Homo sapiens: one gene and its partners. The protein of the gene in region 1 purifies or fractionates together with the protein of each later gene. This does not show direct contact. Each region holds a gene or a part of one and is shown in the gene's direction. Other genes may lie near its edges. The genes, in order: DNAJC8, LRRC47, RAP1A, HDLBP, MRPS31, GPATCH11 and ANXA5.

Region 1 (3,500 bases):
TAGTTTATTTCTTTCTAAAATTTTTTTTTTTGAGATGGAGTCTCTGTCGCCCAGGCTGGAGTGCAGTGGCGCAATCTCGGCTCACCGCAACCTCTGCCTCCCGGGTTCAAGCGATTCTTCTGCCTCAGCCTCCCGAGTAGCTGGGACTACAGGCATGTGCCACCACGCCTGGCTAATTTTTGTATTTTTTGTAGAGATGGGTTTCACCATATTGGCCAGGCTTTTCTCAAACTCCTGACCTTGTGATCTGCCTGCCTCGGCCTCTCAAAGTGCCGTGATTACAGACGTGAGCCACCACACCCAGATCTTTAAAAAGTTTTTTTAACAGGCGGCCCTCTGAACCAGAATAGGTTCAGAGAGACTCCCTAAACTACTTTCTAATTGTTCACATTTACAAATAATTTTGAAGTGAATATTTTTGTATCTGTTAAATAATAGAAACAACACTTATTGGGCACTTAGAAAAAAACTCCCCTCACTTTTTTTTATTGTGGAAAAATATATATAACATAAAATTTGCCATTTTGGCCAGGTGTGGTGGCTCACGCCTGTAATCTCAGCACTTTGGGAGGCCAAGGTGGGAGGATCACTTTAGGCCAGGAGTTTGAGACCAGCCTGGCCAACATGGCGAAACCCCATCTCCACAAAAATAATACAAACATTGCTGGGCATGGTGGTGCATGCCTGTAATCTCAGCTACTTGGGAGGCTAAGGCCCAAGAATCACTTAAACCCAGGAGGCGGAGGTTGCAGTGAGCCGAGATTGTGCTACTGTACTCCAGCCTGGGCGACAGAACGAGACTGTCTCAAAAAAAAAAAAAAAAATTACCATTTAAATTTTTTTTTAGTTTTACAATTCAGTGGCATTAAGTACATTCACAGTGTTGTGTAACCATCACCACTGTTCATATTCAGAAATTTTTCGTCACCCCAACCAGAAACTCTGTATCCACTAAACAGTAACTCCTCATTTTCTCCCTGACCCCTGGTAACCTCTACTCTACTTTGTCTATGAATTTGCCTCTTCTAGGAAACCCGTGTAAGTGGAATGGTACCGTATTTGTTACTTTGTGTCTGGCTTATTTCACTTAGCATGATATTTTCAAGGTTCATCTGTTTTCTGTTTTTTGAAGAGTAATTTTTCAAGAATTTTTTCATTTATAAATAATCTCAGATTAACAAATATTTCAAATACAATATGAAGACTTTTCCTTGAACTCTTTAAGAGTAAATTGTTAGTATGATGGTCCATCACCCTGATATACTTTAATGTGATTTTTCTACAAATATCCTCTTACTGAACCACAATATAAACTATCAAAATCAGGAAATGAACCCTGATACATTGTTACTATGTAAATCATCAGACCCCATTCAAATTTTACTAATTGTCCCAAAAAAGTCTTTCTCAGGGCCTCTCTGGATACATTGTTACTATATAATCATCAGACCCCATTCAGGTTTTACTAATTGTCCCAAAAAGGTGTTTTTCAGGGCCTCTCTATCACTCCGCTCACTGTATAGCTCACTGCAACCTCGAACTCCTGGGCTCTGGGCTCAATTGATCCTCCTACCTCAGATTTTCAAAATACTGGGATTCAAGGTGTGAGCCACTGTGTTTGGCTCTTTGGTTTGTTTGTTTGTTTCGTGACAGAGTCTCACTCCACTGCCCAGACTGGAGTGCAGTGGCGCAATATCGGTTCACTGCAACCTCCGCCTCACGGGTTCAAGTGATTCTCCTGACTCAGCCTCCCTGGTTGCTGGGATTACAGGAGCGTGCCACCATGCCCTGCTAATTTTTTGTATTTTTAGTAGAGATGGGGTTTCACCAAGCTGGCCAGGCTTGTCTCGAACTCCTGACCTCATGATCCGCCCTCCTCAGCCTCCCAAAAAGTGCTGGGATTTCAGGCGTGAGCCACCACACCTGGCGTGTTTGTTTTGTTTTGTAAGATGGGGTCTCCCTGGCCAGGCGCGGTGGCTCACACCTGTAATTCCAACACTTTGGGAGGCTGAGGCGGGCAGATCACTTGAGGTCAGGAGTTCAAGACCAGCTTGGCTAACATGGTGAAACCCTGTCTCTACTAAAAATAAAAAAATTAACCGGGTGTGATGGAGTGCCCCTGTAATCCCAGCTACTTGGGAGGCTGAGGCAGGAGAATTGCTTGAACCTGGGAGGCAGAGGTTGCAGTGAGCCGAGATTGCACCATTGCACTCCAGCCTGGGCGACAGAGTGAGACTCCATCTCAAAAATAAAAAGAAGTGTCATGAGGTTACTATTTTTCCCCTTTGTAATGAATAAGTATTTTATGTGGAGGTGCTTTGAAACTTGGTAAATATCCTGTCCATATCAAAATTTTAGTTCATTTATTTGCCAGTATGGACTTAGGTTTTTCTATTTTATTCAGTACGTTGTAATTTTATGTTTATTTTGATGCTCAGATTGTCTCAAGTTTGGCCAGTGGGTTACCTTTCAATCTAGCTCCTGTGTCTTTCATATGTCTTCATCATTCTTTGATTAGTAGGCACTTTTGTGTTTTTCCTGACCCAGCCTGGAATTAACCATTTCACCAAGGAGCGCTGGTTCCTTTTGGCAGAGAATGATATATAGAAATCAAGATTTGAATGCTAGGTAGATTCATTGCTGTTGGGATATCACAGCTTACAGACCCTGGAGTCTGTGTGTTTGTGTGTGTACATATATGTTTACACCCAACATCCATTTTCAGTCCAACCCCACAGGATTTATTCTAATAGTTAGAAACCTGGTTCCCACTATCTTTTCTTTATTATTATTCTTTTTTTCTTTTTTTTTTTTTTGTAAAGACAAGGTCTCACTATGTTGCCCAGGTTGATCACAAACTCTTGGCCTCAAATGATCCTCCCTTGGCCTCCCAAAGTACTGGGATTGATTATAGCATTACAGCCAGTGCACCTGGCGCTGGCTCCTACAGAATTTAATATCTACATTTACTTAATTGATCTCTCTGTATGCAACTAACTTCCCACTGCCACTCCTTCCCTCTGAATGCTCTCCTCACCCCGCTGTACTCTGATACCAGCACCAGGATATGTCTATGCAAAAACCTTTCTCACCACACCTGGGCTCTGAACTCCCATGTCAGGCCACCCTTCCATGTGGCTCTCTGGCTTTCTGAGCCTGCTCTCTTCCTGCTGGGGGCCCTTTTCACTGATCATGGGCTCCAGCATCCCACACTGATCCTCCCCGCTGAGTAGGCATCTTCCCTACCCTGCTCTGGCTTTGACATCCTCCGTCAAGCCACCTTCTTCCATGAACACCTTTCTCCTCTTACTCGGGGTCTGGCTCCACATACCATGTCTCTTTTCATATTTTTTGGGCTCTGAACCTTGTGTTGGGCTGCCTTTTCACACTGGATGCCCTACTACTTGGACACCCTTCTCACCATACCAGGCTTCCATACCCCATGCTTGGCTGCCCTTTGTGGGAATGTCCTTGCTTGGGTTCTTGTACCCTGTGCCAGG
Region 2 (3,500 bases), about 24 Mb from region 1:
TACAAAGGCAGTTGAGTTTTACGGAAGGAGTATTATCATTTAAATTACAAATGTCTCCCAAAGTTAGCTTGGCCCAAGCCCAGGAATAATTAAAGGTAGTTTGAAGGGCCAGGCGCGGTGGCTCCTGCCTGTAATCCCAGCAGTTTGGGAGGCTGAGGCAGGCGGATCACCTGAGGTCGGGAGTTCTAAACCAGCCTGACCAACATGGAGAAACCCATCTCTAGCTGGGCATGGTGGCACATGCCTGTAATCCTAGCTACTCAGGAAGCCAAGGCAGGAGAATCGCTTAAACCCGGGAGGCGGAGGTTGCAATGAGCCAAGATGATACCATTGCACTCCAGCCTGGGCAACAAGAGCAAAACTCCATTTAAAAAAAAAAAAAGGTAGTTGGAAGGCCAAAGATGGGGATTGGTTAGATCAGATCTCTTTCACCACCATAATTTTCTCACTGTTACAGTTTTTGCAAAGGTGGTTTCATTGGCATTTCCTGGAAGAGGCGAGTTCACTGGCATTTTCCTTGGTCCTCAGGGCTGTAGGCATCCCTCTAGGACTAAGGTGTGATGTTGGATACAGCATGGTCTACTCCCACCTTCCCACCTGACAGATACTTTTGGTTTTCCAGAGTGTTGATGTACTAGGCATGTATCTTAACATTGTGCCTTACATCATGTAAGTGTCCAGTCAGTTGCAATATTTCTCTTCAAATTCATAGATGTCTTTCAGTATTCAAGTTCTTAAAAGTGTTGTGGGCCAGGCCCACGCTTGTTATCCCAGCACTTTAGGAGGCCAAGGCGGGCGAATCACGAGGTCAAGAGATCGAGACCATCCTGGCCAACATGGTGAAACCCCGTTTCTACTAAAAATACAAAAATTAGCTGGGTGTGGTGGTGCATGCCTGTAGTCCCAGCTACTCGGGAGGCCGAGGCAGGAGAATCGCTTGAACCCGGGAGGCAGAGGTTGCAGTGAACCGAGATTGCACCACTGCACTCCAGCCTGGGTGAGAAAGTGAGACTGCGTCTCAAAAAAAAAAAAAAGTGTGCGTCCAGCTCTCTGTAGCACCTGCCTGGTAAAGCATTCCTCTTTATGGTGCCCAAAACAATGTCATTCAAGTCAAAGAGTGTGTCTTGTTTTCTAAATCCCAAAAGAGGTGGCCAAGTTCCCTTTCCCCTGGGCCATTCTGTTCGTAAATTTTAGGCGTCCAGTGGCTCTCTATCAGGAGACCTGTTTCTTGGAGGGTCATGCAAGAGCTATTGGAATCCCTTGTTGCACTCAGATGTCCTTTTGGGTACCTTTCTGAGGAATGGCTACCAGAACTATGCCCAGCAATGTAGCTACGCACATTGGAATTTCGCACACAAAGGCAAATGCATTTGATGTCCTTCCTGGTGCTGTGGGGAGATGGGGAGTGTAGAAAACCAGAAAACTGAGCTCAGAAACAGAAGGCAGGCTGGGCACAGTGGTTCATGCCTGGCATCCCAGCCCTTCAGGAGGCTGAGGCGGGCGGATCACTTGAGCCCAGGAGTTTGAGACCAGCCTGGGCAACATGGTGAAAACCTGTCTCTATAAAAAATACAAAAATTAGCTGGGTGTGGTGGTGTGCACCTGTAGTCCCAGCTACTCAGGAGGCTGAGGTGGGGTGAACGCTTAAACCTGGGAGGTTGAGGCTGCAGTGAGCCATGATCACACCACTGCACTCCAGCCTGGGCAACAGAGCTAGACCCTGTCTTAAAGAAAGGAGAGAGAGGCCGGGTGCGGTGGCTCATGCCTATTATCCCAGCACTTTGGGAGGCTGAGGCGGGCGGATCACCTGAGGTTGGGAGTTGAAGACCAGCCTGACCAACATGGAGAAACCCCGTCTCTACTAAAAATACAAAATTAGCCGGGCGTGGTGGCGCATGCCTGTAATCCCAGCTACTCGGGAAGCTGAGGCAGGAGAATTGCTTGAACCTGGGAGGCGGAGGTTTCGGTGAGCCAAGATGGTGCTGTTGCACTCCAGTCTGGGCAATAAGAGTGAAACTTCGTCTCAAGAAAAAAGGAGAGAAAGAAGGGGGAGGAAAGGAAAAAAAACAGAAGGCACGGGCTCCAGCCCTGTCTCTCTGTGGCTGCGTGCCGTTGGGTCTTGAAGGCTCTTTGCTCCTCTGTAGGAAGACTGGGAGGGTAACGCAGTACACGAAGAGGGAAAGAGATGGGGGAGGTAGTGCTGGTCATTGTGGCTGCTTGACTCCGAAACCACGAGGCTTAAAGCAGCAGCGGCTCTGCGCTCTGGGCTGGCTCCGCCAGACAGTGGACAGTGAACAGTGGACAGTGCTGCAGCTCTTGCTGCTGGTCGCTCGCGTGGCTGTGCTCAGCTGGCGTGGGCTCAGGGCTGGGCTGCCGGGGTGGGTGGGCTTCTCCGTGTGTCGTCTCGGGGCCTCTCCCTCCCCTTCTTTCACAGGGCTCAGGGCTCCTCAGTACAAAAGCAGCAGCTGCCAGCCCTTCTTCAGGCATCAACCTGGAACATGCTTCCTGCCACTTTCCTGCGTTCCGTGGGTTAACTAAGTGCGAGCCCAGTTCCGGTTCTTTGGGAGGACTGGCTCTTTAGGGGCCGCCAAAATAACAGCACAGAGCTTCTGCCTGTCCTTTCCCTCCCCAGAGGGGCGAGACTGCAAATGGAAGCAGCTCGGCCTGGCTCCTAGTGCCCATCCCCACAGCCATTCCCCAGGGAGCACCCCCAAGCCTGGGCTGGGACCTGCAGTGCAAAGGCCCTGACCCTCTTTCCTCCCAGCCACTGGGGACGAGGCCTCTGCTGTCCTATGGCCTCAGCAGTAGCTCTGCCTGCGTGGGAGCCTGGCTTCCCCAGTGTCCTGGCCTCAGAGCCACGTGGCTTGCTGAGACCTGAGAGCACCCGGCCGGCCCTCCCTGGCTGCTTCCCGCTGCTGTGGCCCGTGGGGCTCAGCTGGCAGTGCTGTGGTGAGCCGAGGATGGGGGCACGTCACACCTCTCCTGACTGCATTGTAAGTGGCCATCACGCAGGCGTGTGGTGTCCGTGTGGGAATGAGGGATGGATGGGACAGATGTTACCTGAACAGCTGATGTGGGCAGGACGGTGCCTTAGTAAAGACATCCTTTCAGGCCCTGGGCCACTCCCCTCCCAAGGCCAAGCTGCACAGGGGAGTTCAGCCTCAATGTGAACCCTCCTGAAGCCAAAGGCTCTCCCCCAGCTTCCGAGTTTCTCAGTTGCTGCCGGAGGGAGTGGGGCTCACTCAGGGGCTGGCGCTCCTTATTGGGTTGGTTTATGTCAGCCTGTCACCACCATGAAGTTAGGATCCTTCCCCGGCAGCAGGTCCCCTGCAAAAGCCATGGGCCCGGAAGGCAGCCGGTATGCCAGGCCAGAGTCAGGACCCACGTTGCTGCCGTCAGCTTAGCCACTGCGAGGGTTGTGTTTCCTGCAGTAGAGTGTCAGCTCCGGGTGACAGGTGACGGCATTTCATCCCATCAGGTGTCAGGAGGACCCCTAGCCA
Region 3 (3,500 bases), about 83 Mb from region 1:
CTTCAACTTCGTTACAACCTGTAGTCCATTTATCCTAACATCTTTTTATTATCCCTTATATCTTCAACCCCCTCTGCATATAGCTTCAGGTCCACGGTCCATCATTTATAATTCTCTTGAATATATCCTCAACTCCCTTGACTTTTCAGCAGCCTTTGACTCAGTTTATCATTGCTTTCTAATGTAAAACCTTTATTCATTTGGCTTCCAAGAAACAATACTTGCCTGATTTCCTCTGTCTCATTGGTTACTCCTAAGTCTCCTTTCCTAATTCCTCTTTATCTCCCCTACCTCTTAATGTTGGAGGACCTCAGGGTTCAATACTTGCACTTCTCTTTCCTAACAACACTGCTTTGGAGATCTTGTAGTTGCTTGGTTTTAAATACAATCTGTATGCTGATAAATACTAACTTTGTAACCCTGTCTGTATTAGGCCGTTTGCATTATTGTAAAGAAATACCTGAGGCTGGATAATTTATGAAGAAAAGAGGTTTAATTGGCTCATGGTTCTGCAGGCTATACAAGCATAGCTCCAGCATCTGCTTCTGGTGAACACCTCAGGAAGCTTACAATCATAGTGAAAGGCAAAGAGGAGTAGGTGTTTTACATGGCAAGAGCAAAGAGTGAGCGGGAGATGCCACACACTTTTAAACAACCAGATCTCACGAGAACTCATAATTGTGAGGATAGCACCAAGCTATTCATGAGGGATCCACCTCCATGACCCAAATACCTCCCACAGGCCTCACCTCCAACACTGGGGATTACATTTCAGCATAAGGTTTGGAGGTGACAAACATCCAAACAATATCCCTATCTCTCATTTCTTTTCTGAACTTCGAGCTCTTATATCTAACTGCCTCTTCAATATCTCTTTTTGTATGTCTTATAAGCATCTCAAATATAACATGTCCAAACTGAACTCCTGATAACCTTTCCCTGACCTGGGTCTTTCCAGTCTTTCCCATCTCAGTAAATAGTACCTTTTTAGTTGGTTATGCCTGAAACCATGGAGTCGTCCTTGACTGTATTTTTTGTTATATTATGTGTACATCCAAACTCTCAGAAAACCCTACTGGCTTTACCTTAAAAACTTACCCAGAACTCAGCTACCACCACTAGAATCTAATGACACTATCTTGGTCTAAACAGTTGTCATCTCTCAGCTGGATTATTTCAATAACCTCAAAACTGATCTCCCTGCTTCTCTTCTTCACCCCCTTCAGATTGTTCTCCACACAGTAACCATCATAATTCCATTTAAATGTAAGTCAGATCATGTTTTCCTCAGCTTAAATTATGCATTAAACTCAGAGTAAAAGCCCAGGTCTTTATTACATTTCCCTGAAAGGTCCAAATGAGAATCCTCTCTCTTTGTCCCTTCTCTGGCCCCCACTGCTATACTCACCCACTAGGTAACAATGTTTCAATGAATCCAGCCTCCTTACAGCTTCTCATACACTTTAGACATGTTTCCCTTTGGGGCCTTTGCATTTGCTCTTTCCTGTGCTTGGGGTAGTCTTCCTCCACATAACCATAGAGCTTATTCCCTCACCTCCCTCACATGGTTGCTCAAATGTTACCCGTGAGGCCTTCCCTGAGCATAGTCTTTTAAAATATAACTTTATATTCCTACCCTCAAAATAAACTCCCAACCTTTACTTTTCTCTATAACATTTATTACCATCTTGCATACTTGATTTTTGTCTGTCTCCATGTATACTCCTCCAGGGCAGAAATTTTTGCCTCTCATGATCACTAACATATCCATAGGGCTACAACTATGTCAGTGGATATTTGTTGTGAATGGATGAAACTTGTAGAATGTCCTTAAGAAGGAGGTTGGCATTCTCAATAGGAGGGAACACCAACCACAGCAGTTCTGTAAGGACTTTTCTTAAACTGGATTTTCAGAACTCAGGTTGCCTGTATGTTTATTCTTTTGATTTAATAAGAAGCAGAGACCATGATCTCTAGAGAACATCATAGAAATAGTGTTGCTAGTATTTGTAGCACTTAACATTTGTAAGTAAACTCATTTATTATATAAACATTTGGACAGTGGCAGAATTTAATTGGTTACCATAGTGGTGCAATTCTGGAATATGCAAACTTTATCAATGAAAAATCCAGGAAACTTCCAGTTTTTACATCTTTCCCAGAAAATACACTGGCAGCAGTATAGGAAGCTCAGCCATGTTCCTGTGGCACACCTTAGACGAATTTGAAGCTGGGGAAATGGCTGAGTGGTAGCATAGCTAACTCCCTGGAATACAAGAAAGAGTACATCAGCCAGGGTAGAACAACCAGAACTATTTTAGATGTAGTAGACAAAATAGAGGTAGTGGTCATGGGGAACAAGGAAGCCAAGGCACAACAAGCTTAAGAAACTTTGTGGATTTATCTTTTACGTTTAATGCATCCAGAGGTAAAAAGATCCAAACTGTATAGTTATTTAATATAAAGACCCAAGACATACACATTTTTAATATTCTGCCATATGTGCTTTTTAAGTAATATATATATATAATACCAAAACTTTTCTAAAAGAAGATTTTGTCTTATATTAACCTCCATAGTTACAACATAAAGTAATGATTGTCACCAAATAAAAGGAAGTTTAAAATTAAGTAATTTTAATTTGGCATGACTAAAGCTCAGTAACTAAATGTTAACCATTAGTAAATTTAACTAAAGGGGATAGATAGTCATTGCACTATTCTCACATCTTTTCTAAAGGTTTGGAATGAGGGGGAAAATGAAAATACATGAACAAGCTCTTTTTTTTTTTTTTCCGAGACAGAGTTTCACTCTTGTTGCCCAGGCTTGAGTGCAGTGGTGCGATGTTGGCTCACTGCAACCTCCACCTCCCGGGTTCAAGTGATTCTTCTTCCACCAAGTAGCTGGGACTACAGGTGTGCACCACTACGCCCGGCTAATGTTGTATTTTTAGTAGAGGCAGGGTTTCACTGTGTTGGCCAGGCTAGTCTTGAACTCCTGACCTGGGGTGATACACCTGCCTTGGCCTTCCAAAGTGTTGGTATTACAGGTGTGAGTCATTGCCCCTGACCATTAACAAGCTCTTATAAAGAGTTTATTGACTGTCAAGATGATAAAAATATTGCTATGCCATGGGAATAGAAAAAGAAAGATGATAAAATCTGCCAGTAGAGATATTGATTCTGGATGATGAAGTCATAGTTTAGTATTGGGCTTATACCTCAGATTGTTAGCACTTGGGCAGTAGTTGTGTCATAAATTTGCAAATAAAATTATTTAGGATCAAAAGATCTGTTTCTAAAAAATTATATACAGCTCTAAATCACACAAAAGCAAATTAAAGTGGTTAAGAATTCCTTTTTAATTCTAGTTTACTGTCATTGTTTCTAGTCACCTCAGTTGCTAGAAACTTGTGTTATGTCTTGTTTTCTGTCAGGATAGCAAGTAATAAAAAATGTTACTCACTTGTAATTATGCTGTTTTAAATTGTTGCAGTATAC
Region 4 (3,500 bases), on another chromosome or scaffold:
AAGCTTTTCCCTCTTTTGGTAAGAAGTAACCAAGTTCTGAAAGAAGCATATCATGCGGCTTTCCCAATTGCCAAGTTATGATGACACAAAGTCCAAAATGCGTGTAAAGGTTTTTGACCAAGTAGAAAAGCAGAGAACCCCAACCAGTATAATGTGTCAGAATGCTTTTTCTCTTCAATTGTAAAAGCACCACAACGTTCAACATCTGGAAACCAAGAAAATAATGAAAAGAACCTTTTTTCATGTGTATAATATTTTAAAACTTGGTTACATGTTATTTTTTGGTATTTCTAAAGTCAGAGACATTTTAGAAGTGAAATCCCTAGTAGGCTATTGTTTTACCAAGCACACTGAAGTTCCTCGAATACCGTTGAAGATGAGCTAGACATTTGTTCTGAGACGTGTCTGGACATCATGTGGTTGTGTTAGTCATCTTGTTGATACTTGTTGTTAATTTGGTAAGAATACATTGACTACATACTCTCCCTTACTACTTTTTATTAGCATTCATATTAATCTTATTTCAAATCAAGGTTACAGCTTCATGTCATTTGTAGAGTCAGATAATCCTAGAAAGGCTTGTAAGAAAGAAGTGCCAACATCCTTCCCCTAATCATGTTTCCTCCCCTGCAGAGTATCTACTTCAGCCTTAGTAGATTTCCTTGATCTTTGCCTCCAACTCTAAAGAGCATATTTGCTTGACGTCTGTATTTGTGTCTCCTACCCCTGTTTCATGTGATGTCTCTTCGCTTGACACTGAGAATAGGTAGGAAGTTCCTAGCTTTCTTTCACCCTCTGCCTTCTCAGTGCAAACGGATCCATGGCTGCCCAAAGTGATATATCCTTAATTTGGTTAGTTCAGTATTGATTGTTTATATTATGACTACATATTGCCATTTACAGCTGGACGAAGTGGTATAATAGGATTGTTTTCACTTTTCTGGATAACTTTTTGTTTTCCTGGGTTATTACAAGTCTTATTTGTTTTTGTTTGCTTGCTGCTTGCTCAGTTTTCTATATTTTGTCACTACAATTCAACCCCAAATTCTGAAGCAATTATCTAAATCTTTCAAGAAATTGTCCGTTTTCTTTTGAAGAAAATTAGTATTCCTATCATTTTATCTTGAATAAATCTCTCCCAGCGCCTCCAATCTGCTGCAGGCTTGTCTGTGCCTGAAATCTTCCTGTAACTCTCCTCACTCCCTCTTGTGTTGGAGCCTCACTTTTCTGGAACCTATGTCATTCTCTTGATTTGACTGTCTCACTTCGATGGAGCACATCCTTCACTAGTTGCCTGAGAAGTGCATGGCAGATGAAGTTTTCAGAATTTGTATGTACGAAAGTGCCTCGTTCTGCTCTTATCCTGAGTAGGAATTTGGACATCATTTTGCTCCGCGGTCTCTAAGTTTCCAGTGTTGTTGAAGTCTTAAGCCGTTCTGATTCTCTTTTATTGATACGTAACATTTTTAGAGCCTTTGTGTGTGACTATGTTTTCCTCCATGAAACCTGAAGGTTTTTGTTTCTTTTTTTTCTTCTTTCTTTCTTTTGTTTTTTTTTGAGACACAGCGTCTTGCTCTGTTGCTCAGGCTGTAGTGCGGTGGCGCTGTCATAGCTCACTGCAGCTGCAATCTCCTGGGCTTGAGTGATGCTCCTGCCTCGGCCTCCCAAGTACCTGGGACTACAGGCATGCACCGCCACACCTGGATAATTTTAAAAACTTTTTGTAGACATGAGCTCTCTATGTTGCCCAGGCTGATCTTGAACTCCTGGCCTCAAGTGATTCTCCTGCCTCAGACTCCCGAAGTGCTGGGAGTGAAGGCTTTGCATCTGGCCTCAGAGGCTTTTCTTTCTGTGAAATTCAGAACTCCCAGAACAGTGATGTCCCTTGGAGACTGTTTTCATCCATCGTCTTGCCTACTCTTTGGTCCTGTTTATTTGCAACTCATGTTCTTCAACGCTGGGCATTTTTTTGATTTATTGCTTTGATTTCTTCCTATTTGCTTTCTCTCTCTCTCTCTAGAATTCTACTCTTGGACTTTCTGGATTGGCACTCATAATTTTCTTAAGGTTTCTTTTTCCCCCCTCTAAAATTTTTGTTTTTGTTTTTATCTTTTAAATTGTAAATTGACAAATTATACTTGTACATATTTAGGGGGTACAAAGTGATGTTACGATTTATGGATACAATAAATAATAAAATCAAGTTAACATAATTCATCACTTCAAATACTTTAAGTTTTTTGTGGTGAAAGCATATGAGATTACTGTCAGCACTTTTGAAATCGACATTATTATTTACTATATTCACCGTGCTGTACAATATATCTCATAAAAGAAAACCACATTCCTCCTGTCTAATTGATGTTTTGTACCCTTTGGTTTTTCATTTTCTTTCTGGAAGTTATTCTCAAGTTTGTCTTCCAGCCCTTCTACCAAGGTTTTTCTCATTTCTAAGAGCTTTTTCTTGTTCCCTCTATTCCTATTTTATAACCTATTTTTTGTTTCATGAATGTGGTATCTCCTGTTAACTGTTGGAAGATATTGATGAGGTTTTATTTTTCCCTGTTTTCTTTTTCCTTAAGTCACTATTGAGGCTGCTCTGGTTTGTTGTGGGTTTTTGGCTTTTGTCAGCCTTTTCTGGGCTATGCAGTGATGTTCTTGTGCCTGCTCGTGAGTCAGAGGGCCTCTGAGCCTGTGTCTGTGGCTGACTGTGGCTTTCACTGCAGAGGCACCTGGCTGGGCCATTTCCTTACAGCACCCTTGTCAGCTTCTTTGGGTTTCTTCAGATTCCCCAGAGAAATATCTTGTAGCCCTTTGCCTGGCTGAGTGGCCAAGTGAGGAGAGAGGCCTGGGAGCACAGCAGTAACCATAAAAGAGCTTACTTCCCTCTTTTCAGAATTGTTTCCCTCCTCTGTAACTGGTGTCCCCAGTCCAAAGATTCTACTTCCCTTTGCAGACAGAAAAGCGATACCTTTTTGCCAGGATAGGAGAGGGACTGTGCAGGTTGGCTCTGTGTGGCTGTGCAGAGTTGTGGGGTGCATCTTAGGGATCTTCGTGCCTTTTAAACCTATCAGCCAACTCTGTTTTTAATTCAGGTCTCCTGGCTTCCAGTCATATTGCCAGTTGGCCTTCCCCATTGCCGATACAGGATTCAGCCCTTTTAGGTCTGTTTCCAGTTTCTAGCCTCCAGTATTTTAATGTTCTTATCTCTATTCTTATTCTTTGCTTTCGTGATTTGTATCTTAAAAAAAGAAAAAATCGTTTACTATCATTTTAGTGGTGCTTCACGAAGTAGTGTAAATGTATTGATCTGACAACGGCTCGTGCTGGAGACACTGTTCCAGGAAGTGGGACACAGTAAGGAAAATGCAAGTGTGTTCTCCTGCACTTTCACGGAGGTCACGTTTTGGTAAGCGGTGTCAGGCAGTCAGCAGACCAGCAGATATGCAGTATGTCCAATGTGGACAAGAAGAAAGGAGGAAAATAAAGTATCGAGGGGA
Region 5 (3,500 bases), on another chromosome or scaffold:
TTCTACATAGAATATTTCACTTAAGATATTTTCTCATAGTTTTTGTTGACAGTTTAAAATATATTCATTAAAATGTTATTTTCTTTTTTTGGACTTAGGAAAAATATATTCACAGGGAAAAGACTTAATATTTTTGACATGATGGCAGTTACTAAAGAAGCACCTGAAACAGGTTTGTTAAGAATAACACTCTTTCTCAGGTGGAGAAACATTCCATCGTTCCAGGATGTCCTTAGTGTTCTAATAGTTTGGATATTTTAATATTCCATTCTGTCATTGGCCTGGATCCTGCTTATGAATGTGGCGGTTGTTACAAGGAAAACTTGGGACTGTAATGTCCGCCTAAACTGGGAAGGCGTCAAGAGACCAAAGAATAATTTGGGCAAGTCCAGCTTGATGAATAGATGAGTTTACTAGAACTTACATTACATACTGGACATTCCTGAGCAGCTCTAGAGTCACCCTGCCTCCCATCTCTAAGCAGCCTTTCAGCTAATGTTTTGTTTGCCTACTCTGTGTGCGCGATGACTGTTACCTGATATGTTCCCAGGTATGCCCTGGGATGTTTGGGTTCTCAGGGACACCTGCTCCTCAGCTAGGCACCATGGCCTTGGCTCCCTGCTCAGCCTTCAGGATCCAAGCAACACACATACACTCTTAAGTAACCTGGTGGGGGTTACTACAGTTGTCAACATTGCTAGTTTCGGTCAGGCTTCCCCCTTGAAATGTTGCATTCTGTGAGACAGCGGGAGGTAAGTACTACCGATTACCGAATCCAGAGGTCCAGATTAGCTACTAATTTGAGTTAGAACAATAATAATCAACTACCATTTACAGTGTATCTCTATGCTATTACATAAAGATATACTGGTTCCTGCCCTTAGGCAGCTTAGAAGAGGAGACAGCATTTACAAAATAACTTACTGAAGTGACTTAGTGATTGTTTAGGAGATGGGAAGAACATTCAAGGAATATATTTAACAGACTTGTAGTGTTTTCTTTGGGTAAGAAATTTGCCATTTTAAGTCTAAAAGAGAAATAAGAGTGTCCTCTTGCTTGACATTAAATTTAGTTTACTAGTAAAATAAATGAAGAAACTTAATACAAATGGTCTCTAGTGTATAAGTGATGAGCATTTCTAAAGAAAATAAGTTAGTTTTTTGGATATTGGTAGAAACAATGTTGTATGTGGACTTGGGAGGCTGAGACAACATGATGGCTTGCGACTAGGAGTTCAAGACCAGCCTGGGCAACATAGCCCCTTTCTCTAAAAAATAGAAAAAAATTATCCAGGCATGGTGGTGCATGCCTGTAATCCTAGTGACTTGGGAAGTTGAAGTGGCAGGATCACTGGAGCCCAGAATTTGAGGCTGCTGTGAGCTATGATTGTGCTATAACACTCCATCCTAAGAATCAAAGTGAGACTCCATCTCGAAGGGGAAAAAAAAAAAGAATGTTGTATATGATAGATAAGTTCCTAGGCGGGCCTCCAAAGGCTCATTTAATCTTTCTACAGTTACTTATACGAACTTTTGATTTTCCCTCTATTTAATAGACTATTAGGGGCTATATCTCATTCATGTAGCACCTACTCATGTGGCTTACAGATCATAGGAACTAGGTGTCTTAAATCTTAAATTCTTTTTTGAACAAACTGTACTGTAAAATATATATCTGTAGAGGAAAGAAGTTAATTCAGTGTTTGTTCATTTGAATTGAAGGTGAAGCTAAAAGAACAACCCCCTTCTTATATTACAAAAACTGCATTCTCTTGTGTATGATGAGAAGGAAGTGCAAAATGCGTAGGGACAAGGAATCGCCTCTTCCCTGCTCAAATGGTTAAGCGTGCATCAGAAAGGAATTTCTTGGCCGGGCACGGTGGCTCATGCCTGTAATCCCAGCACTTTCGGAGGCTGAGGTGGGTGGATCACTTGAGGTCAGGAGTTTGAGACCAGCCTGGCCAACATGGTGAAACCCTGTCTCTACCAAAAATACAAAAATTAGCTGGGCATGGTGGCGGGTGCCTGTAATCCCAGCTACTCGGAAGGTTGAGGCAGGAGAATCACTTGCACCCAGGAGGCGGAGGTTGCAGTGAGCCAAGATTGTACCATTACACTCCAGCCTAAGTGACGAGCAAAACTGTCTCAAAAAAAAAAAGAAAGAAAGAAATTGGTTGTCAGGGCAGCTGCTGTTGTCCAGCCAAAAGAGGCACTTGAAGATTCTTGAGAGTCTTGAAGGAACCATCTTACTTTTTAAAATAAAAAAATCTTATTTCTAAAACTGAAGTTAGTTGGCAAGGAAGCATTGAAGTTTTATATATTTTATAAAACAGTATCAAATTATTATACTCTAGTTAGGAAAATAGCACACAACTTTAATAATTTAATGAAGGTACTGTTTAAATATGCTATACTTGCATGAGTCTAAAGAATGGTTTTTGTTCCCAATTAAATACAAGAATAGCAAAATGTGGAAACGTAAATTTAGCAATTGTTCACTGTTGTTTTCCCACCACCTGAAATAATGCTGGAAATACAGTTGGCATTCAGTAATTTTTTTATTGACTGATTGAATGAGTTATTCTGTTCCATGATTCCCATGTCTTGTTCCCCACTAAGTTCTTACCACTGCTACAAAGGATATACTCATAGGCCCTACTGGTTATCCTAGAGTCGACAGGCAGTATAGCTTAACAGAAAGAGTGTTGGTGTTGTGTAGAACTGGATTCAAATTCAGATTCTGCCACACTAACTTTTCCCCACCTATAAAATGAGGGCTACTACATACATCTCAAAGATTAAGTGAGGTAATATGAGAAAAGTGTCAGGCACAGTGCCTGGAACATAGTACATATTTAACAAATGCTTACAAATATTAGCAAGTGTAAAAATATAGTGATGATCCTAATGATGATGGAAAAGACATAGGTGGGTCAGTGACCACCAAGTAAAAGATAACTGAGACAATTAAGTTATTTTTGATGTGATTGCTCTGTAAATGTGGCTAGTTAAGGCTAACAACTGATTGTTTCCCAGTATCAGATGATCTAGGCCAAATATCTAGCAGTCAGTGTGTGGCTAGATACATTTCTGCACATAAAGGCTCATAGAAATAGATTCAGAAAAAGCAAAATAGATAAAATAAGGCTTACCCAGGTAGAAGAGTAATTGAGCTATTTGTTGATATGCTTTAGTGGGGGCTTGGCAAAAGTGGGTAAAGAGGTAAGCTGGAGGATAGGTCATATGCAATCTATGCCTCTAACCCGGAAACTGTTCCTAGGAATTTGTTCTAAGGAAATATTACAGATACGCGCTAAAGTGTAACTACAAGGATATTTGTCACTATAGTATTTAAAAGAGAAAATATATAAATGATCAAAATATTGAATAGTAAGGGATTGTGATACATATATATGTAATATATATATATATATATATATATATATATAAAATGGGATACTAATGCAAGCATTCAGTGAAAAAAGTAGATTACCAAACTAT
Region 6 (2,613 bases), on another chromosome or scaffold:
CAGTTTGGATGATGAATTAGCAACAAATGTAAATTATTTTAATTTATACCTTATTTCCTGCAAAACTTCTACAAGTCATTCTAATGTGTACTTTTTTCTCCTACTTATAAACAACAAAAAAACACAATCAAAAGAAAATGGAGGCCGGGCATGGTGGCTCACACCTGTAATCCAAACACTTTGGGAGACCAAAACTGGTGGATCACTTGAGGTCAGGAGTTTAAGACCAGCCTGGCCAACATGGTAGTGTATTTTAGTCTCTACTAAAAATACAAAAATTAGCCAGGTGTGGGGCACCCAATAATCCTAGCTACTCAGGAGGCTGAGGTAGGAGGATCACGTGAGCCCGGGAGGCAGAGGTTGCGGTGAGCCAAGATCACGCCACTGCACTCCAGCCTAGGTGATAGACCGAGACCCTGTCTCACAAAAAAAAAAAAAAAAGGAAATGGAGATTATTCAAGAAAGGAAAACACACTCGTATGCTTACTTGAGTATAATAATTTTGTGGAAAACATTCACAATTTGAAAAACCTATATTCCACTTAATTGGGAGACCATTGATGAGAACTTTTATGGCAAAAGGAGGCCATATTCACCTTCACCTTATCTGGGGGAGGTAAATGCCTTGAAAGTAGAAAAAGCCTTTAAAGGATGCCAATTTTAATAAGGCCACCCAAAAACTATTTTCTCAATGTTAACAAGCAGTCTCCATTGTGTCTGGCAGACTTGTGGAAATCTCAGGGTGGCTAATGAACTGTAACACATTCGAATATATCAGTTCTGTCCTTGACATTTCTAATAACTATTCCAGAGTATAGCAGAATATTTACAGCCTTGAGCTAATTCGGCACGATCTAAGAGCCAGAAAACCAAGGTTCTGTTCAATGTAAAGTATTAATAATGTGCTTGTATCCTATAGGTACTGGAAAAATTACAAATATTGACTAGTTATTTAAGAGAAGAACATCTATATTGTATTTGGTGTGGAACAGCCTATGAAGGTAAGAAAATTACTTTATGCTTTTTAAAAATAGATGAATGCTCTCCAATTTTTAGTTAAAGTCATTTCCCACTGACAATGGAAATTTCTTATTCCATTCAAATGGCAGTATGGGACCAATTTCTTAAATAGTGGATATAGAAATAATTGAGGCTTTATTAAAATTGCATTTAACTTTTCAGAAACTGAATGTGTGGAAGTGAATTTTTCAGTGTTTTGTTTCAAAAGAAACAATTTTAGAATAACCTGAGAATGATGAATGTTTTGTGCTTTATTTTTAAAGATTCTTTCTTTGGCTACAGATATTTGAAAGAATTTATATTAAATTTTAGAGCTAATTTTTATATACTTAGATAGAATATTGCCCCTAAACCGTAAAAATCAGATATGTTGAAATCCATTCCTTTTTTTTTCCATTGTAAGGATAGAAATGGTTTACACTTACCAGGTGTCTTACAGAGCCAAGTGTTTCTCCTTCTAACACCTTTGCCCAAGCTACCTTTGCTAACTTGTATTTAAGAACTTTGTACTTGAGAGTGAAGCATTTTTGGTTATTGTTGTTTTTATCTTTTCTGGTTTAGCAGAATAAGTAGAAAACATCAGATCAAAAAATGCATGTTATGTTGAAATAATTTTCTAGTTTACTGTAGAAGTTGTATTAATCTTTCATTTCCCTCACATAACTTACAGATAAAGAAGACCTATCTTCAAATTGTCCAGGACCAACTTCTGCAGATCATGACTAAGATTATTCCCAATAAAGTGGAAACTTGAAAAATGTTATTACTTCCTAGGGATAGACAATTTAGCAGTTGGAAATCTCAAATTTTTTATGCCAGTAAAGAAAGGGGGACTTTATATAATGTTTTGTTCTTTTTGTACTTTAGAATATGAATGTTCATTGACTTGAAAAAAATAATGCAATGGCATTTCAGAACACAAGTATCACAGAGATGGACAGTTACAATTTATTGCTATATTGTGATACGTGAGGGGTTTAAGGACACCAACAGGTAACTTCTTATTCCCCTCTTCACTTTGGAACAAATTGAGAAATAAGAAATGGGAGTCAGAGGAAGAGAAAAATATCCACTTTATCAGTGAATAAACTGATACAGAGAAGAAGGTTGACTTTTTCTCCAGTCAGAGACTGTAATATTTCTCCCTGATTGGAGAGAACAGCGGGTCTCTGCCTTGTTGGGGCAGAGCCCATCTTTGCATTCTGAGACCAGTTAGCTTTCAAGGTCAGGGAAACCACCAGGGGCTGGACCACACATGCTCAGTTCCTTCTTGTATCACCCATGGGATAAGACAGTTCTCTCTTGGGAAGGAATGAATGAGGGTTCAGAGAGCTTTTTCCTACACTTCTTGCTTTGAAGGAGCAAGGAGAAGTTCCCTTCCCTCCATCCAAGCATGAAGAGGAGGGGAAAAGTATTCCCCTCAATAAGGCTGATGTCAGAGGCAATGTTCGACCAGTACTACTAAATTCTAATCCATTTAACTGTGATAATTTCTGGTAAAATCATGAGTTTTCATGACAATGTCTATATCCATTATATGTGATCTGTTGGAAGTTTTGGCTAGAGAAACTTAATTGTGAGGAAATTTAAATA
Region 7 (3,500 bases), on another chromosome or scaffold:
TAGGATCTTCTGGATGACCTGAAATCAGAACTAACTGGAAAATTTGAAAAATTAATTGTGGCTCTGATGAAACCCTCTCGGCTTTATGATGCTTATGAACTGAAACATGCCTTGAAGGTAAAAAGGATGAGTGAAAGGAACATTCTTGCATAGATAGTATTATTTTGTTTTGGTAATTACTTCCTCTTATTTGTTATATTTAAAAAATTTTATCTGATTATTTCAGTGAGAGTTGCTTGGCAGACAAAACTGGGAGGCAATAAGCAGTAAAGGAGGGAGAAAATTACACGTGTGTCATTTCATCTTTTTGTAGATTTAAACTCAATAATACTGGGCTGTTTAAAATTTTCATATTTTTATAGCTTTTTGTATTTTATTTTCATGCCTGTCTTCTGATTTTGAGGATGTTTAAAAAATATTACAGATGAGCTATTTTATCTTTTTCAGTAGAAAATTGCCTGATTAGGGAACCATAATATTGCTCATCATTTTAGGTTAAAAGGTAAAGCTTCAGAGAGAATTTTCAAGATAAATATTTTCTCATACTCTTTCCTTCTTTCCTGCCCCTCTAAACACTAAAATGAAGTAGCTGGTAAACTTGCTATAATTTCAGTTGCAGCAAAAATTAAATATGTATTCCCTTGACTGGTGTTTGGAATGTTGTATAAATATGAAGGCATTGACACATTTGTTTAGGCTCATGGGACAGGAAGTAGTTCAGTTGTTAGCTGTTAGATTTTGAATGGGCACATTGAGATTTAACAAGGAAATAATGTTTCTCAGGGATTCTTACTGATGGAGTGGAGAGAGGAGAAGGGTCATCCTGATAGGAGCTGGTTTGTGCTCAGTCTCTTCATTTTCCTATGGTGATTCTTTTGGAATAAACAAAAATCTGAGGTTATTGAGAAAAGCACTTTTTTTGCTAAGTACTTCTGAAATGTCAGCAGTAGTTGAAATTCTGCCAGAGAATGAACTCTAGGTTTTTCAGTGCTTGATTTTTGGCAAAAAATAGAAATATAAAGAAAATAAGGCTTCAATATACTATCTTTTAAAAAAAATTAAGTCCAGCTATATCGTTGCATCTCTTAGTTTAATCATATAGATGTGATTTTTAAAAGCAGAAAAAGGAAAGCCAACTAAAATGATTTTTCAAAAATCCAGAAAGCAAGTCCCAATTCCTTTATACTGTTCTAATTCCTAATAATTAAGTATTGCTATATTTATTGTTACCTTTGATGTAGAATTTTCCTGTGACTGCACAGCACTTAACTTGGGGGTCAGGGGTTTATCTTTTGAGGTGCTTATTAAGTATCAGTGCTCTTCCATGTACATTTACGTGAAGTTTTCATTTTTACTCTTTCGGTTTTTAAAAAATTACTTCATGTTTCATGAAAATGTTTTACTTTTAAGCTAGAATTAACTGATCAAATTAAAAGTTACAAATTTATGTAACTGGTTATGTATACGTACACATATATACACACATACACATGATAAACATTGTTTTCCATTAGGCAAAAAGAATAAAATGGTCTTTGGAGAGAAAATCATTTAAAACTTGTTATTTCTATAACTAATAGAACTCATATACAAAGAAATCCATGTTATACTGGATAATATTTATATAACTATGCAATTTGGGTAACATCTATAACTTTCTTTTAATAACTTTCTTTTTAATCTTATTGACATGTTTTCTCTATTAAAATCTCCAAACAGGGAGCTGGAACAAATGAAAAAGTACTGACAGAAATTATTGCTTCAAGGACACCTGAAGAACTGAGAGCCATCAAACAAGTTTATGAAGAAGGTAAATGTTTGTGAGTTATATTTTGACTTCACCTCCACTATCACTTCCTTCATTTCTGTGATTTGAATGCAGTCCTTTGTAGGTATGGGAGGCACGCAGTAAATGATGGATGAATGAATGAATGAATGAATGACCTGCAATTCAAGCTATTTTTCTCCTTCAGTAAGGAAAAGACTGCCTTGTTATCCTCTACTATTTTCATATTTTATAAGAAGCTACTGCTGAAGATGGAGTTTACTTTTGCATAGGATTTGCAATTAGTGTAGGGATATACAGGTTGTCTTTATGTTAACATTAAGGTAAAAATGGTTTTTCCTCCTTTAAAAATATTTAGCTTTATGCTAGCAAAATTTAGGAGTTATATAAAAAGTACTTTTGGAACTTTGGAAGAGAAACCTAAACCCTTTCCCACATCAGAGTTGATAAAGTACATTTGAGTAAATGTATGTTGTCTTAGCTAATGGCAGTGCTTGAATAAAATATTCTGCATTTTGATTTTTCTTTTTAGTGTGTCTTTTATATGAACAGAAATCTGCATTTCGGCCTAAAATATGTCTCATGAATAGAATCAAGAAAATGAAGTAAAAAGTAGAGGTAGAGAGTCCTTTTCTTACCAGATTTCTTGTAGCCAACTCTTTCTCCTGCCTGACTGAGGAGGGTCAGACTATCCAGTTTCTCAGCTCAGTCAACAGACTCCAAGCCTAGTGTCTTTTGCTAGGGGCTGTATCTTGCCATTAGTTTGTTAATCTTAGAAATGGCTTTGTTAACCCAGCAAGTCAAAACAGCAAAAAATTGTTTAGAGCAACTGTATAATTACCTTTCTAAAGGGCTGAATCTCTCTTTCCTGCTTCTCTTTTTATAGGCAGTAAGTTCCCAACCGCTAAGGCAGAAGTGATACATGTATCTCAACTTTGAACTTTATTTGATGTACTATTCAAAGATCTCTTTCTGGGGATGTTGACGTTGATGAGAGCCTTTGTGCTACTGGATTACAAATGGTGTGCTCAAAGGGGGTAATAACTGTGTGGTCTGTCCTACTCAGCCGTGTAATTGAGCACTGGCTATGTGTCTGGCAGTGTGTTAACAGGCTGTCATGAGTGACAAAAGGTGTGCATAACACAGCTCCTGTCCTCAAGCAGTTTGTGTGCAGTCTCCTCAGTGGGTGACATGACAGAATGACTGCAATATTTAAAGGATAATGAAATTCAAACTAAAGTAAAATACCAATGATGTTAAATGCAATAATGCATTCAGAAGAGAGAGGTCATCATAGCTTTGGATGTTAGGGAGGCTTCATGGTACAAATCACACATGCAGCAGAGTTTCAAGACTAGGTGGGTTTACAAAGTGTCCATTGACAGATGAATAGATAAAGAATACGTACACACACACACACAAACACAGACACACACACACAGGAGTACTGTTCAGTCTTAAAGAGGGGAAATCCTGTCATTTCAACATCATGGATAAACGTGGAGGACATAATGCAAAGTGAAATAAGCTAGGCACAAGGCATAAGCTATGCATGATCTCACTTCTTATGTTGAATCTAAAAAAATTGAACTCATAGAAACAGATAGTAAAACAGTGTTTGCTAGGGTGTAGGGGTGGGGTGAATGGGAGAAGGGACTGGTGAAATATTGGTCAAAGCATACACGATTTTAGTTAGGCAGGATGAATAAGTTCT

What was found.
Region 2: the proteins of DNAJC8 (region 1) and LRRC47 purify together in Homo sapiens (affinity purification with mass spectrometry, with the first as the bait; one large-scale study listed by BioGRID). This does not show direct contact.
Region 3: the proteins of DNAJC8 (region 1) and RAP1A purify together in Homo sapiens (affinity purification with mass spectrometry; 2 studies listed by BioGRID and IntAct, with this or other methods). This does not show direct contact.
Region 4: the proteins of DNAJC8 (region 1) and HDLBP purify together in Homo sapiens (affinity purification with mass spectrometry, with the first as the bait; one large-scale study listed by BioGRID). This does not show direct contact.
Region 5: the proteins of DNAJC8 (region 1) and MRPS31 purify together in Homo sapiens (affinity purification with mass spectrometry, with the first as the bait; one large-scale study listed by BioGRID). This does not show direct contact.
Region 6: the proteins of DNAJC8 (region 1) and GPATCH11 purify together in Homo sapiens (affinity purification with mass spectrometry; 2 studies listed by BioGRID and IntAct, with this or other methods). This does not show direct contact.
Region 7: the proteins of DNAJC8 (region 1) and ANXA5 purify together in Homo sapiens (affinity purification with mass spectrometry, with the first as the bait; one large-scale study listed by BioGRID). This does not show direct contact.

Annotation. Positions count from the first base shown.
Region 1 is NC_000001.11:28,223,030-28,226,529, reverse strand, and holds part of DNAJC8 (dnaJ homolog subfamily C member 8), read left to right. Parts: intron 1-3,500. UniProt on the Homo sapiens protein: Suppresses polyglutamine (polyQ) aggregation of ATXN3 in neuronal cells.
Region 2 is NC_000001.11:3,789,999-3,793,498, reverse strand, and holds part of LRRC47 (leucine-rich repeat-containing protein 47), read left to right. Parts: intron 1-3,500.
Region 3 is NC_000001.11:111,699,789-111,703,288, forward strand, and holds part of RAP1A (ras-related protein Rap-1A precursor), read left to right. Parts: intron 1-3,500. UniProt on the Homo sapiens protein: Counteracts the mitogenic function of Ras, at least partly because it can interact with Ras GAPs and RAF in a competitive manner. Together with ITGB1BP1, regulates KRIT1 localization to microtubules and membranes.
Region 4 is NC_000002.12:241,309,173-241,312,672, reverse strand, and holds part of HDLBP (vigilin), read left to right. Parts: intron 1-3,500. UniProt on the Homo sapiens protein: Appears to play a role in cell sterol metabolism. It may function to protect cells from over-accumulation of cholesterol.
Region 5 is NC_000013.11:40,750,691-40,754,190, reverse strand, and holds part of MRPS31 (small ribosomal subunit protein mS31), read left to right. Parts: intron 1-98; coding exon 99-172; intron 173-1,721; exon of another isoform or gene 1,722-1,918; intron 1,919-3,500.
Region 6 is NC_000002.12:37,094,518-37,097,130, forward strand, and holds part of GPATCH11 (G patch domain-containing protein 11), read left to right. Parts: intron 1-134; exon of another isoform or gene 135-243; intron 244-919; coding exon 920-1,001; intron 1,002-1,690; coding exon 1,691-1,746; 3' UTR 1,747-2,613.
Region 7 is NC_000004.12:121,679,981-121,683,480, reverse strand, and holds part of ANXA5 (annexin A5), read left to right. Parts: intron 1-3; coding exon 4-117; intron 118-1,719; coding exon 1,720-1,810; intron 1,811-2,672; coding exon of another isoform or gene 2,673-2,725; exon of another isoform or gene 2,726-3,500. UniProt on the Homo sapiens protein: This protein is an anticoagulant protein that acts as an indirect inhibitor of the thromboplastin-specific complex, which is involved in the blood coagulation cascade.